2 separate regions of the Homo sapiens genome follow, and region 1 is linked to region 2. The links come from fine-mapping of genetic effects on gene expression. A gene starts in region 2. The other region holds a variant in brackets. All regions are shown on one strand. Distances are between the middles of the regions. Region 1 overlaps PSMF1 (proteasome inhibitor subunit 1). Region 2 holds the start of TMEM74B (transmembrane protein 74B).

What was found. PIP is the estimated chance that this variant, and not a neighbour inherited with it, causes the effect.
Region 1: its variant is fine-mapped to the expression of TMEM74B in blood mononuclear cells (TOPMed, PIP above 0.99).

The regions. Positions count from the first base shown.
Region 1 is chr20:1,146,935-1,155,270 of GRCh38, reverse strand. The region is part of intron 4 of PSMF1 (proteasome inhibitor subunit 1); the gene reads right to left. Among named protein-coding and RNA genes, the nearest start is that of PSMF1, 33 kb to the right of the region's middle. The variant T/C (reference allele first, on the strand shown) is at 4,885.
Region 2 is chr20:1,181,196-1,189,531 of GRCh38, reverse strand. TMEM74B (transmembrane protein 74B) reads left to right here and starts at 4,551. Exons shown (of 3, transcript NM_001304748.2): 1 at 4,551-5,230; 2 at 5,584-5,761; 3 at 7,945-8,336. The coding sequence starts at 5,731.

The DNA.
Region 1 (8,336 bases), 34 kb after region 2:
CCACTCTCTCTGAGCATTTGTAGTGCCTTTCCCTGCTCCTTTAGCCAGAAGTGCAGGCCTTTCCTGGAACACTCTCCGTCCACGCCAATGTTCATTTCCTCACTTTGGGTTTCCCTGAATTTGGACTGCAGGATATCAGAGGGGAACAACGGTGAATTCACTGACCATTTAGCGGTACTTAAAACTCTGCTATTCTCCAATCTGCTTTCTCAATGAGGAGTTTTCATATTCTCAAATAGCTTTACTCTATGCATTCTGTAAGGCTGCACTGAATAGGAAACTCAGGATGGCATGTGCTTACTCTAGAACCAGAACCTTCTTTATCAGTACAGAATGCCAACATGGCTGCCTTCCCAGCTGCTAATCTGTACCTGTGGCTGATCACTGGGTGTGAACACTGTCTGCACACCAGGCTTCTGGAGTGCCAGCTGTGGTTTCGTGGCACAACTAGTATCAACAACCTAAATATTTTCAGACCCTAATCCCTAATTCCACAGCATTATTTGAACCACCTAGGCAAGTGCTGCTCAAACTGTCAGGTGCACATGAGTCAGTGGGGGATCCTGCTAAAATGCAGGTTCTCATTCAGAAGACTAGGAGTGGGACCTCAGATTCTGCATTTTTCACAAGCTCCCAGGTAAGCTGACACTGCTGATTTGGGGGTAGACTGTTTCCCAGTCAGAGTACAAATTCAGCCATGAAGTTTTGGTGTCTGAGTTTATTAACTTTGTCCAGCTAAGAGTGGAAACTTAGAATTGGGGAAATGAAGATGCTGATAACTGCAAAGAAGTATATGTGTACATATGCAAGAGAAGCACTGGTCACAGGGCCCTGAGCAAACAGAGCAATAAACCTTTCCATTTCCTTACCCTGAAGGATATCCTGTGAGATCAAAGCTGAACCAGGGACTGAGAAGGGTTGGGAAATGCTACATTTAAGCTAAGTGATCAAAGATTTTTAGAAGAAAGAAAAACAGAAAGAAAAAATATACATAAATTATGCTAAAAATTGTAAAGCATTCAGAACAGAAAAATGTCACCCATAATCTGACTCTAACACAATGATTACTTTTGCATTATTTTCATGTCTTCTTTCATAAGCATGTTTTAATGTGACTGTAACAATACTATATCATTTTGGATCTCATTGCTTTCCTCCACATAGGTGCTGTATTTCCTAAGTTGTCTTTACTATTAACATTTTTAATGGCCAAGTAATACATACTCAAGTGAAGCAAATTTTAAAAATTTACTTAATTTTCTATTGCAAGCACTGATGTTTCTGGGGTATGCATGCGTAACTACAAATAATACTGTACTTAATAACTTTCATGCACATGTTTTTTTTCTATGTTAGAAAACACAGATTTCTTATCCTCTGTCACTCCACTACTATATGATGGGAACAAAGAACTTGTTTCTTTGGTCAACTGATTGAAAGGAGTTGTGCTCAGGAGCCTCAACTGCACCTGACTGAGATGATTAGATCTTGGTCCTTCAAGCTAATGAGACTTAGATAAGATTTTAGACTGAGTTGATGTAGTAACGGGTTAAGACTCTTGGAAACCTCAGGGGAAGAAAGATATATTTCACATTTGAGAGGTCAGAGAACAGATTGTGGTAGATGGAATTCGATCCCCTCTCAAGACTCCACAACTCCTAATCCCCAGTACCTATGAATGTGATGAGAAAGCAATCCTATTATTGTTTCGTTGTATGGCACAGTTGACCTCAAAAGGGGACATTATCTCGGTGGGCTAATCTAATACATGGGAACCCTTAAAAGCACAGAACATGGATTGTGGAGGAAGAAGAATGCCCAAGAAGAGACTCAACACAGCACTGCTGGCTTTGAAGAGGTGGCAGACACATGAGAAGAAATGCAGAAGGTCTTATGGAGCTGAGGGAGAGGGATACGGACCTTAGTCTTATAACCGCAAGGAACTGAATTCTGCCAGTGACCTGAATGAGCCAAGCAAATCCATACTCTTGACCTAGAGAATTATGAGATAATAAGTGGGTGCAGTTTTAAGCTACTCATTTGTGGCAATTTATGATGCACACATATGCTGCAAACACTTTCCTCACTTTACTGGCCTTACACTTTGAGTTCAGTTAGCTTACAGATGTTATGAAGACAATGTTTTTCTAAGTAATTTAGAAGAATAATGAGACTGACTCCAGCATTGGTAAGGATAGGGAAATGACATTGAAACATAGTGAGAATGTCAATTAACACAACTGTTTAGAAAAAGGGCAACTGAGCAATCTGTATCAAAATCTCTATAAACAGGCTTGGTCCTTAATGTAGTAATTCTATAGGAATCTATTCTAAGGAAACATTCAGAGACGTGCTCCAAGTTGCATAAAAGTATGTCTACTGAAGCATTAGTTATGGCAGTCCCAAATCAGAAATGACAGGCTAAAAAAAGAACTTGCATTGTCCTTGAGTTTTCTTCCCTTCATTAAGCCAACCCATCAGCAAGTCCTGTCAGGTATACTTCCAAATATACCCCAGAGCCACCTGCCTTATATACCACCATAGTCTACCACCTACCACCATTATTTCTTGCCTGGCTGCCTGTGTCAGCTTCTTCTCTGGGTCTGTTTTTACTCTTGTCCCTCTATAATCCATCTCTACAAAGGAGCCAGAGGGTTATTTTGTTTTTTAATGTAAACAATATGAAGTCCCTCCCTTGTAAAACCTGTCCAGTGGCTTCCCATTCTCCTGATCTTGGCCCCATGGGTTATATGCATCGGACTGTGCTTACCCCATGGTGTCATCTCCTCTGTTTCTGCTCCACTGCTGTACTGTGTTCAAACCAGTATTTGGAGCAATCCAAGCCAAGTTCATTTCTTTGTTCTTGGAGCAATCCAAGCCAAACTCATTTCTTCTGAAACAACTGCCAATACATGTGTCAAAAGTTGGAAATACTAAGGGCTGAATCCTGCTCCAATGCTCATAAGATGTGTTGCTTTGGGCAAGTCAAGCTCTTGCTGCCTCAGTTTTCTTTTGCATAAAACAGAGATACCAAGAGCATCTACCTCATTCTCTTATGAGGCTTAAAAGATATTGTTTTACATATACTTTACATTTAATGTAACTGCTCAGCCCACAGTAAAAGCTCAATAAATATTAACCATGTTAACACGTCCACTGTCAGAATATGACTGGGATTCTTCAAGAGGAAAAAAAAAAATCCGTGGTTAACCGAGTCCCAACCACGTAACTTTTCAAAACATTGATGGCTCCCATCACCCCATGGATCAAATCCAGCTTCTTAGCACATACTGGCCTTGTGATTTGGCCCTCATGTTCATCTTTTCTCCCTTCACATGCTGACATGAGTGAAACAAAAACTCCCCCACTTCTACAAGATGATTTCATAGCCCCACTGGTACCCATCGTTCCCTCTGCCATAAAAGTCAATTACCCTCAATACCACAGAACTTTTATTGGTCCTTTAAAATTTAGCTCATCAGGCATCATCTCTCTGAAAACTTTCCTTCTATCCTTCAGATTAATCACTCTTTAATGTGCTTCAGCAGATCTCAGACATACTTCTACCATTGTTTTAAAAAGATTTATGATCTGGAATGAAAAGGGCAATTAGCCCCTATCAACTGTGAGCTCCTTGAAGGCTGGGTCCACACCTCATGACATATTCCCAGTAAGTGGCACATGATGGACACTTAGATTGATTTGGGCATAAGACTCAAGTCCAAATTCTGGCCTCACCATTTCACAGATGTGTGACCCAGGGCAAGTTAGAAAATCTCCAAGCTCTAGCTTTCTCTTGTGTAAAATACAGACAATAGTATCTATTTCACAGGGTTGTTATACATATTAAATGAGAATGCTTACAAAAGTGTAGTGCCTGAGTCCCATAAGTAGAATTCAATAATTTACTATTATAACACAACTTTTGCTTCTTACTGTTGTGAAGTTACTTACTGTACATGAACTTCAGCTTCCTTACCTGCAAAATGGGGATAGCCCTTACCAATCTCATGGAATTGTTGAGGGGATTAAATAAGAGCACATGGATTAAATGCCCAGCATTTGTCTAGAATCAATGGCACTGAATAAACAGTAGCTGTATAAATGTTATTGAACTTTGCTATCCACAGGAAAAAACCAAAGGGATATTATGTGACTCCAAGGCGAAAGGAATGAAAACAAATTTTAAGAATAGAGAATAGTTGCACAAGTAATGAAAAATGAAAATTAAATTATTAAAGTAACATAGGTAGAGGATAATCTTTTCAAAATATGGTGCTAGACCAACTGGATATCAATGTGGAAAAATATAAATCTCACACCACACATAAAAAATATTTTAGATGGATTATAGATCTAAACATAAAAGGTAAACCATTAAAGCTTCTAGGAGAAAATATATGAGGATTTCTCCATGACCTTGGCATAAGGCAAAGACTTCTTAAACAAAAATCAAAAGAGCACCAAACATAAAGGGAAAAGCACTGATAAGCTAGATTACATAAAAATTAGGAATGCTTTAACAATAATTAAAAAAAACCATTAATAGGGTAAAAGGGCAAGCTACAGAGGGGAGGAAGACATTTGTAATACATATATTTAATGAAGGACTTAAATTCAGAATATATTATATAAACAATGCCAACAAGTCATAAAAAGACAAGCCAATAGAAAAATGAACAAGAGATTTGATTACCTCTTCACAAAAGATGAAATCCAAATGGCTAGTAAACTTCGAGAAAAAAAAAATTTTAATGTGGCTCATGGACTCCTGTCCCATGAGGTCAAAACTATTCTATCTCAGAAGCTATTTGCTTTTTTTTTGCTGTGTTGACATTTGCACTGACGGTGCAAAAGCAACAGTGGGTGGAACTGCTGATGCCA[T/C]AGTATGACTCAAAGCAGCAGCACTAACCTGGCCGTTATTGCACCCTCCCTTACCACTCACTCACCCACATCCAGCTTCACTTTAGAATGTACTTGATGAAGAGGTATAGATTGTCAAGTTTTGTAAAATTTCAATCTTTGAATATGTCTTTTTAATATTCTGCGTGAAGTGGGAAACGGGCATAAAGCACTTTTTTTTTTTTTTTTGAGACAGGGTCTTGCTCTGTTGCCCAGGCTGGAGTACAGTAGTGTGATCATGGCTCACCACAACCTCCACCTCCTGGGCTCAAGCAATCCTCCCACCTCAGCCTCTCAAGTAGTTGGGACTCCAGGGTCACACCACCACATCCAGCTAATTTATAGAGACAGAGTTTCACCATGTTGCCCAGGCTGGAGTACAGTGGTGTGATCATGGCTCACCACAACCTCCACCTCCTGGGCTCAAGCAATCCTCCCACCTCAGCCTCTCAAGTAGTTGGGACTCCAGGGTCACGCCACCACATCCAGCTAATTTATAGAGACAGAGTTTCACCATGTTGCCCAGGCTGGTCTCAAACTTCTAGGCTCAAGCAATTCACTTGTCTCAGTCTCCTGAAGTGCTGGGATTACAGGTGTGGGCCACCACACCTGGCCTTGCATAAAGCACTTCTACTGCACACAGAGGCACAATGTTGTCATGATGAAAAGTACTTGTGCAGTTGTTCAAGCTGCTGGCTGAAGCAGTCATTTTTTCAAAGAAAACAGTTTTTTGTTTTTTGTTTTTACTTGAAAGAATGACAAACCATGCTTATTCAACTTGGCTACATAGCGGACATTTTCTCGAAAAGGATGTGAGCCCATTACTTCAAGGAAAATAATGAATGCTATTTACTGCCAATGAGAAAATTCAAGTTTTCAAGCAAAAATTAGCAATGATATTGTATAATAAGATGTGTCAACTTTGAGCAGATCTGCATATCTCAGTGAATCAGTATTTTCCAAATGACCAAAATACACGATCTTCTACAATAGTATTATACACGGGTAAAAGGTCCATTCAAATGGCATGATAGACCAGCAGATTTTGATGTAACAGATATATAACAAGTTCACTGGTATGGATTGATTCCACATTACAACTAACCCTTACAAAAACTACTACTCGTCAAGTTGGTTTAACAGTAAAGAATATCTAGAATTATTTGAAAAGGTTATTAAACTAGTCCTCTTTTTTTCCAACAACTGATATGTGAAAGGCTTCAATGAAAACAACATATCCCCTACAGACTGAATGCAGAAGCAGAAATGAGAATCTAGTTGTCTTCCATTAAGCCAGACATTAAAGAGATTTGCAAAATGTAAAAGAATGTTACTCTTCTCACTAAATTTTTTGTTTTGAAGAGATATTTTCACAGGAATTTGTTATTTATATTAACACATAATGGGCTTATTTTTAAATGAATGAATAAATGTGTATTTTGAAAATATCATTTGTAACTGCTAATGCAGTAAATATTGCTACATATAACCCATATAAGAGCTCTCTGGGGTCCTCAATAATTTTTGAGAGTGCTAGAGGGTTCCTGAGAACATAAAGTTTGAGGTCCTCCAGTGTAAGTAATATAACTCAAGGAAGTAAAAGAAAAAAAAACCTAATACACAGGGATGTTCATAGCTGTATTAATCACAAATTAGAAATGCTTGACATACCCCATAGAAGTTATATAAACCATAGCATACTAGCAAAATGAAATATCAGATACTAAAAGAGTTATGTTTGGCACTTTAGTAAATGGATTATGAAATTTAAAAAGAAAATGCAAAATGCAAACTATTTGGAACATTTAAAAATATGTAAAGATACAGATTGGTTGGGATTAAAAATGAATTCAGAATGACATAAATAAGAGCTTTATATCTAAAGATTTATTTTTAGAGAAGCTGGTTAAGCATAGAAAAAACTGTTTTTTACAAAACATGGAGCAGGATTTGGGGCATACAGTCTCCTGACTATCAGAGGACAGATGAAGCAAAAGGAAATAGGTTAGACTTATAATGATAATGAAAAGTTAGGCTGGATAAAAAAATATTTTCCTTACAGATGGTTGTTTTCAGTAATTCTTTCCTAGACTTCTCAGGAGTAGAAAAGACCTGCCCACCTCCAATCTTCCACTACAATGGAATGTCCTCTCTAGCTATACTCCTAGCCTAGACGCACCCAGTATCACAGCAGACCCAGAATCTTTTGACAAGCTGCAGCCATACATCACTACACACACAGGGAAACAAGTCTCTTTACGCTCTAGGGCAGACAATTCCAACTTTAGTTTGTATTTGGAAATTTCCAGGTGTGAGAGAGGCAAAACAAGAGTGTTTAAGGTGAGGGGTGAGACACTGGACTGTGTCCTATGGGAAGGAGCAGAGGCTGATATTTCTGCTCCGAGCGCCAGCCAAGGGTGTTCAGTGATGGGATAATTAATACTCTGCAGCAGCCAGAGAGGCCAGCTTCTGTGCTGCTTTTTGCCTCCTTCCTGCTGTGGCCTCCCCCCAAAACTGGGCATTTCAGGGAGAAAGGAAAAGGTGGAAGTGTGAGTGCCTGGTTGCTGAGCAAAGTGGTGGTGATGGGAGCTATAGTAAAGAAATCAGGGTCAACACAGCTATCTGAGCTCATGGACAAATGGGGCTGGCCAAGGAATAAGCAGGGAGTGGGGGCAGAGGCAGGTGAGGTGATTACAGAGGGGAGATCTGATAGGCTGTCAATTTGCTAGAGGCTAAGAAAAAGCCTCCTAAACATTCTGCCTCCTCTTCCAACCATCTCTCCAGTTCAGTGCCTTACTCTTGTGAAATAGATCTGCCTCAGAAAGACTTAATTGAGGAGGAGAAAGGGGATGGGCTTCTCCATAATCAGTCTACACTACATTGAATTTGTACACCACATTGCTTATTACATGAACTAACGCTGACAGGTGCAGTGGGAAAAGCATAAGCTGCTGAGTTAGACCCACTTCGGGGTAAATCCCAGTGCTCACCCTCCCAGCGAGATAACGCTGAGAAGCTACGTTACCTCCCTCAGCCACTGTCTCTTCCCCTGTAAAGTGGGGATGCCACTGATCTTCTTGTAGGGCTGTCCAGAAGATAAGCAACCATAAATTAACACACTCGGTTCACAGGCCAACGCATGGTGAACAGCCAAGAAAGGGAAATTACTTCTGTCCTCAACACAGGGTGGTGATGATGATGATGATGATGATGATGATGATGATGATGATGATAACGGAAACAATGTCCATAATGGACCTGGGCCTGGGCCTAAATACTTGCCCAACACCCGCTCTGGGCTGACACTCTCACACCTAATCCTCCATCAAATCTGTTTTGGGGGGAAGATGGTAGGTATTTAAAAAAAATAAAACAAGGTTCTCTCTTGAGAGACCCTCTACTCATTACACCTTCACATTTGTTCTCATCTTTGC
Region 2 (8,336 bases):
TGAGATTTGGAGGAGACAAACATCCGAAGGACATCAACCCCAAACCCACTTTCCCCTACTGTTAACATCTTACATGAGTATATTTGTTACAATTAACCAACACTGATACACTGTTATTAGCTAAAGTCCATACTTTATTTATATTTCCATAGTTTTTGCAAAATTTCCTTTTCCTGTTCCAGTATTCTATCAAGGGTACCACACTACATTGAGTCGTTATGTCTTTTTAGGTTCCTATCGTTTGTGACAATTTCTCAGACTTTCCTTGTTTTGATGACCTTTGAGGAGAACTAGTCAGATGTTTTGTAGAATTTTCTTCATTGGGATTTGTCTGATGTTTATCTGATGACTAGACTGCAGCTATGGGTTTTGGGGAGGAAGACAACAGAGGTAAAGTGCCATTTGTGCCGCATCATATCCAAGGTACCTACTAGCGACGTGATTTGACTGTTGGAGTTGACTTTCATCACCTGGCTGAGGTCATCACGTTTGTCAGTTTCTCCACTGTAAAGTTACTTCCCACCTGCCCCCGCCCCCGCCCCGCCACCCCAGCGCTTTCCATAAAACACTCTTGGAAAGGGAGTCATTATGTGCACCTCGCACTTTCAAAATGGGGAGTTACAGTTCCCCTCCTCAAGGACTGAGTTATCTAGATACAGAATTTGGAATTCTGCATGGGAGATTTCTCTTTTCTACCTGTTTGTTCAGTTATTTTTATCAGTATGGACTCATAGATATTTATTTCATACTTTTTGTTACAGTCCAATATTACCTTATTTATTTTGTCACTCAAATTTTTCCAGCTTTGGCCATTGGGAACTCTTTCAGTTAGCTCCTACCCCCACCATTTGTGTGTGTGTGTGGTGTGTGTGTAGTGTGTGTGGTGTGTGTAGGTAGTGTATGTGTGTGGTGTGTGTGTAGTATGTGTATTGTGTGTATGGTGTGTGTGTAGTGCGTGTGGTGTGTGTGGTGCATGTGGTATGTGTGTGGTGTGTGTAGTGTGTGTGTAGAGTGTGTGTGTGGCATGTGTGTGTAGTGTGTGTGGTGTGTGTAGTGTATGTGTAGTGTGTGTAGAGTGTGTGTGGCATGTGTGTGTGGTGTGTGGTGTGTGTGTGTGTGTAGCATTTCTTTACTTTCTGGCACTATCAGATGCTCTGGGCTCATCTTGTAGTGTTTCCTGCCCAAGTCCTATAAACAGCAATTTCTTCAAGGAGCCTTGGATCCTTTTATTGGAGAATGGTATTAGAAACCAAGATTTCAGTGCTACGTGTGCTTGTTGCTATGGAGTATCATTGCTTCTAGGCCCTCTCGCCTGACAGTAAGGAAATAAATGTGTGTATACTAGCCCGTGTGTGTGTGTGTGTGTGTGTGTGTGTATTATATATATATATAACTTTCTGTATGTAATCATCTGCATCTATATTAAGCTAAACATGAGTTCATTCTGGTATCTCCAATTCTAATCTGTTGCCACATGGATCATTCTAGCCTCCTCCTCAGGGGTCATTTTTATCAGAAGCAATGTTGCTTAGTAACATAGCAGACATATGTTTATCTGTTTCCAGGAAACAGAGCTTCCAAAGGTCAAATTCTCATGCAAAAGAGGAAAAGGTTTTGTTAACCCTTTACTTACATTCATCAGTGAGGCTCTCCACTGCTCTGAGGATAAAGAACAAATTACTTGGCCTGTAAGGCTCTGCAGTGACCTGACCTGCTAAGCCCAGGCTCGTCTCCTACCAGGTTCCTTATCAGGCCCTCCATGACAACCATACTGGTCTCCTGCAACTCTCAAACTCGTCACACACTTCCTTCTACCCCAAGGTCTTCGCCTATGCTAGGCGCTCTGCTGGACTTCTCTTTCCTCCCCTCTTTATCTGGTTGCCTTCTACTCATCCTTCTAATCTCAGCTCAGTCCACACTTTTACAGGAAGCCATTCCTATCCCCAAGACTAGGTTGGCACCCTTGTTTGAGGCTTGCACTCTATACTTTTATTTGGTAGCATTTACTATAACTGCAATGTTACATTTACTTATCCTTTTCTCCCACTAGAATACAAGCTTCCTGAGTGTAGGGATGGAGTCTACCTAGCTAACTAGTATATAATATTTGCCCATTTTCTCTGTTCTTTATTCAGTGAGCACTTATCCAGAGCTTCCTAGGTGTTAGCCCCTTTTCTAGTGTCTGGGGATACTGCAGGGAGGGAAACAGGCAAAAACCCTCTTCTTTTGGCACTTATTTTTTAGGGGAGGTGGCAATAAGCAAACAGAAACTAATGTCAGTTGGTAAGTGCTATAGAGAAAAATTCAGAGTGAGGGAGTAAAGAGTGCTGGGGCACTGCTATTTTTGAAAGGATGGCCTGGAATGGCGTCTCTGAGAAGGTGGCATTTGAGCAAAGACTTGAAGGAAGTGAGGGAAGGGGGTGAGTGCGGGAAATATCAGAAAGAAAAACGTCCCAGGCAGAAGGAACAGCCAGCGCAAAGGCTGAGGTAGGACAGCGCATGACTGAGGGAAGGAACAGTGAGTGCTTTAAAGGCGGTATCTCATCCCATTCCCATAACACTTCCTACATCCGTTTCACAGAGGAGGAAACCGAGCTCCAGGAGGGCAGTCCTTTACACCAGGGCACCCAGCTGTGGGGGTGGAGCTGGGATTTGAACAGGAGTGTGGTGCCAGGGCTAGCATCCCTTTGAAGTCTCTAACAACGGGCCAGGCCTCTGCAAGGCTGGGAGGAAATGGAGGCCTTCCCAGCCCTGGTGGACCTGCCTAGGGCTAGGCTATGCTGGCCTTGAAGGCACAGGCATCCATCATCCAGGGTGACTTCCAGTCTCCTGGTTGGGGAGGGCTGCACAGAACTTTGGAGGAGGGCAGGTCAGGCTCCGCTCATGAGGTGGCCGAGGAGCAGGACATGGCACACTCATTCGCCTGTCCTTCCACATGGCCAACTTCTGCTGGCCTTCCCAGAGCCCTCAAAGCCTGCACATTCACAATCCTCATGGACAGAAGTGGATACAGGCTCAGAGGCCAGAGGTACTAACCGAGACCACACGATTCAGCTGGTCACCGTGTCTTCCCGGAACCTGCACGATTCAGACCAAAGCTGTCTCTGGGGTTGGCGTGTGTTCCCCAAAGAGGAAACGTCTCCATGAATTTGGTACTCTAGGCACTTCGCTGGACTCATCTTAACTCCGGCCCTGTAAAGGAAAGAAGTGAAAGTCACCCCTTTTCACAGCCTGTTCACCCACACCCACCTAGGTCTTCTAGGTGATCAGACATGGGTCCTGCTCTCCAGGAGCTGCCAATCCGATGGAGGAGGCTGACCCTTAAACAAAATCACGACCGTCAGAGACAAGAGCAAACAGTGCGGGCAAAAGGAGAGCCCAGATGGAGGGGCCCGTGGGGTAAGTGGGTGTGTGCCCAGGGAGGGGTTCCAGGAGAAGAGGCCCCACAGCTGGGCCTTGGAGGGTGAGGGTGTGTTTGGCCATTGGCAATGCCCCCAGGAGAACACCCCTCTTGGGCGGAGCACTCCACTGTCCCACGGAGAAAAAAATTGCAGAGAAAAGGGGGAGGGGGATCGTCGGATTCTTTCTTGCAGCCTTCAGGTGGCGCCCTTGAGCCACGGAGCCGCAAGCGCCCGAGGAGACCGTCCCGACCTAAGGACCTCGGAGAGGACCCGGGGTCCTACCTGGGGGCTGCGTGCGGGGTGGGGGTGGGGGGAAGGGGAAGTGGCAGAGTGGGGGTGAGGAGTGGGGAGGCACCTGCGCTTGGCGCAATAGGGGCTCTCCGGTGGTGGGGAGGGATCTTCTTCAGCAGCCCCCGCCCGCCCCGCCCCTGCGCCCGTGGACCGCGGGCTCCAAGCCCCAGTTCCCTAAGCCCAGGCGCCGGCGATCCAGATCTGCCTGGAGGGGAGGGGAGGACGGTGGATCGGAGCCCCCGCACCCTCGCCCCAGCCCATCACCCGCCTTCCTGTCCCTCTCCTTGCTAACTCTCCGGGCGCCCTCGCCGGCCGCGGGCGGAGCTCCCTCCGCGGCGCTCGGCGAGCCCCGGCCCCCGCCCCTTCTCCCGTCCCTCCGTCCCCGGATCCCCCCCCCGCCTCCCCAGCGGCCGCCACCGCCGCCGTACAGCTCCGCGCGGCGCGAGTAGGTACGTGCGCCTCGGCAGTGGCTCCGGGCCGGGCCGGGAAGGGGGCGGGAGACCGGGAGGGCGAGGCGGTGGCGGCCGGGCCCGCGCCCTCCGGGCTGCGCCGCAGGAGAGAGACCCCCGCAGGCGAGACCCCCGCAGGCGTACGCCGGCTGCAGGAAGGCGGACGGGCACCGGAGAGGACGCACCCTCGCCCGCCGGCGGCCGGGCGCCCTTCGCCCCAGCGTGGTGAGGCGGGGAGGGAGGCCCGGCACAGGTACGCACGCGGAGAGGGGACCGCTGGGGGCGGCAGGAGGCCGAGGGCCGGGGGCGGGGAGTGGCGGCGAAGGACGGCGAGCCTGACCTCGCGGCCCGCCGAAGGACATGCGACCAGGGGACCCGGCCTCCCCGGGCCTCCGCCTGGTCCGGTTCGGCCTTCCGGGTCCCGCGTCTGTGGGCAAGGGCAGGAGCAGGGGGTGTGGACTGGGCCGGCGGGAGCGGGCGCGGTGGGCAGCCGGCGTGCTGGGGCTTTCTGCGCGCAACTTTGGGTACAACAGCGTGGACCTGCGTGTGCGTATCTGCGCGCCCCAAGGCTTTGTGTACAACTCGTGCGTGTGTCTATCGACTGGGTTTTGTGAAGCTTCACCCACAGCCGCTGTGCGTCCCTCTCTCCGGGTGTCAGTGCGCGCGGCGGGTGGGGTATTGGGCCCCTGCGGGTCTTGGTGGATCTGGCTTGGGTCTCACTCCCAGGGGCACTTTGTGTGTGTGTGTGTGTGTGTGTGTGTGTGTGTGTACGCGCGTGTGCGTGTGACGGGGTACTCGCGTGGCCCGAAGATCCGAGGGTCACACTACGTGACTTCTGGGTGTCTGTGGGTACTGCTGTGGGAACAGCTGCTGGGGGAGTGTGTGTGGAACTGGAGTGTTCCTTTCAGGACCTGTCTGACTGCAGATGAAATTAGTAACTGGTGGGGTCGTGGGGTGTGAATGGTGGGCGGGAGCAGCTATGTCAGTTGGTGTGTTTCTGCTTATGTTAGGGTAATTGGGCACGGCCTTTGTGTAACTGGTGAATATCTCTGAACCTGGGCATGAAACAGAGAGATGTCCTAACTCTGGGTGAGAGGAATCCTCATTTTTCTCTGCCCTCTCACTGTGGCATCCTAAGAAAAAAGTTTTGGGTTCCTGCAGCATGAAGGAGAGCTCTGCTCCCAGAATTTGGGAGCTCCAGATTTCTTCCAGGGTGTGGAGGCATCAATATATCAGTCTGGGAAAGGGGTTCCTGGGCCACTCCAGGAGCTGAGTTGGGTGGAAGGTGCTGAGGGTGTGGGTGGGGGCCACTTCTGAGCACCCATGTGGCACCCACTGCTGGTCCCTGTTTGTGGCTGGGCACTCAGGAAAATGTTTTTGGTGCTAAGAGTAAAAAGCCAACCAACAAACACATCTCTTTTTTCTGTCTATTCACTGGAAAGTAAAAGCAGTCTGGGCGCAGGCTGGGGACCCAGATGGAATTCAAACTTATGCCTGCTCTCAAGGTGCTCACGGTTGCTGATAAACAGCTGGATAAAATGAAGAGTCTATGAGTGAGGGATGCAGAGCCAGGGAAGGCTGGTGGAGTGATGCCACCAGCACAGGGGTATGAGTTTGCAGGTTTGTACATGATAATAATTCTTAGGGAATCTGCATTCAACTCCTGTCCTCCACCCTCCCATACATGCCATGGGATCTTGGCCATGTTTTATGAAATAGAGACAGTAATTCCGGATCGTGGGGCTGGTGAGGGTGATATGAGATACTCCTGCATGAAGTGTCGGGTACATGGCTCAACAGCTAGTAGGTGCTTGGTAAACATTTACTAAATTGAGACTCTGGAAAGAGAGACGTAGTGATAGAAATGGGCTGTAAAGGGAAAAGAGCTTTGTACTCACATGAAAGGCCCTATATGTGCTAAGAGGAGGTGTCTGATGCTAGTCCATATTGACAAGAAGGTCAGAAAGATTGAAAAACATGTCTTCCTGCACTGAGGCTCTTTGAGTTTCATTCATTCATTCATTCCATTCATCCTCACTTCATTTGCTCATATTTACACACACACACACACACAAACACACACACACACACACACACACAGAGAACGAACCACAGTGCACTGGAGAATAAACTCCGGCATGAGAATGCAGAGAATCGTGTGTGTGTGCATGTATGTGTGCGTAGACACACCGGAGCATGTGAGCCACTCTGCACCTGGTGGTCTCTGTAGCCCATGGCTTGTGCGCCTAGGGCTCTGAGTGTATGTGCCCTCAGGCCATCAGTGTATACAAGGAATGATGCAGTTCTGCTGTGGATTAGGAATGACACATGCCAGGCAGGGAAGGGGGCTGAGGTGGGACCTGTCGGGGAGAGGCTAGATCTGCCTAAGAGCCCCGATTGCCAACTCCAGGCGAGTGTTACAAGGGAACGGGGGCCTAAGGTGGCCAGATTCTTTCATTTTGCAGGAGAAGCCAGGAATCCAACATTTAAAATGTAAAATCTAAAATCTTTTGCTTTTTATACATTTGCAACTAATTCACCAAAAACAAATGAACAGGCCAGGAACAAAACAAAGCAAAACTTCTATCAGCCAAATATGGTCCCCGGGCTGTAAGTCAGTATCCTTCAGCGGGAATGCACATGTGCTGTCTGTGTCTGGGTGGGTTTGTGTTCAGGTTCTTGGGTGGGGTAACTCCTCTTGCAGCACAGAGAGTGTCCCTCTTCTCGCCTCTCCCTCCCGGTTCCCCTCCTGTGGTTCTAGTCCAGGTCCCCACACTTCTGTTTACATAAAGGCATTTGGCTTTGACCTAGTCATGGCTCTCCAGTCTGCCCCTTCCTCTTGGCCCTTTTAGCCATGCCATCCCCAACCTGCTGGCTTCCTTGCTGGACCCCCATCCTCCACTTTGCCCCCTCCCATCTCATCAGTCCTCCTTTCTTCTGAAGCCGAGGCACTTCCTGCTCCAGCTCCTCAGCTCTGCATGGCTCTCGGGCTCCTTGGCCTGGCTTTCAGAGTCCTCTGTGAGCCGGCCCCAGCTGGCCTCTGAGGCAGTCTGTTCCCCTTTCCAGAATGCCCTCATCACCTTCCATTGCTGGGAAGTATCCAATTCATCTTCTGAGATCTGGCTCAAATGCCACCAACTCCCAGAAACTTCCCTTCCTCTTTGTTCCCACAACAACTTCTGCATTTCTACCCCCTCCCCCACCCCTCCGTCATCCTTCCCTCATACAACAAGGTCCATGGATTGCACTGGCCAGGGTCTTGCATGCACTATTTTATGAAATCCTCACAACAACCTTATGAGGGAGGCATTTTATTCATTACCATTTTATAGATAAGATGAAGACCGAATCTGGAGAGGTCACATCACTTGCCCAAGCCCAAGTGGTGAAGCTGGGATTTGAGCCTGATATTCACACTACCTACATTCCCTCCAGTATAATAGGAACTCATCGCTAACTTTGAGCACTTAGTGTTCTGAGTACTTCGTATAGGTTATCTCAATCCTACTCCAGCTTTGCGAACTAGAGGGTAGTAGTAGTATTATTTTATAGGTGGGGAAACTGAAGCCAGACAGGATTAGTGAATTGCCCACAGCCATACCCCACCCGGTGGTAGAGTGGGATCTGGGCTTGGATCACACTGTTCTGTCATCGTCTTATTCCCTGTCTTCCCCTCTGTCTGGCAGACACCCCCAAGTGGGAATTGTGCCTGACTCACCTTCATGTGCTTAGGGACTGGTATGATGTCCTCCACAACAGGGAGAGGTTGCTACATTCAACTGACTTTCTTTTTTCTCTTCCAGCTGCCAAGGGGCCAAGGGATGAGCTGGGGCCCTCCTTCCCAATGGCATCTCCCCCTGGTCTGGAACTGAAGACACTGAGCAATGGTCCCCAAGCCCCAAGGAGATCAGCTCCCCTGGGCCCAGTGGCCCCAACCAGGGAGGGTGTGGAGAATGCCTGCTTCTCCTCAGAGGAGCATGAGACCCATTTCCAGAACCCTGGGAACACGAGACTGGGCAGCTCACCCAGTCCCCCTGGGGGTGTCTCCTCACTGCCCCGATCCCAGCGGGATGATCTGTCCCTTCATTCAGAGGAGGGGCCAGCCCTGGAGCCCGTGAGCCGCCCGGTGGATTATGGCTTTGTTTCCGCCCTCGTTTTCCTGGTGAGTGGGATTCTTCTGGTGGTGACAGCATAC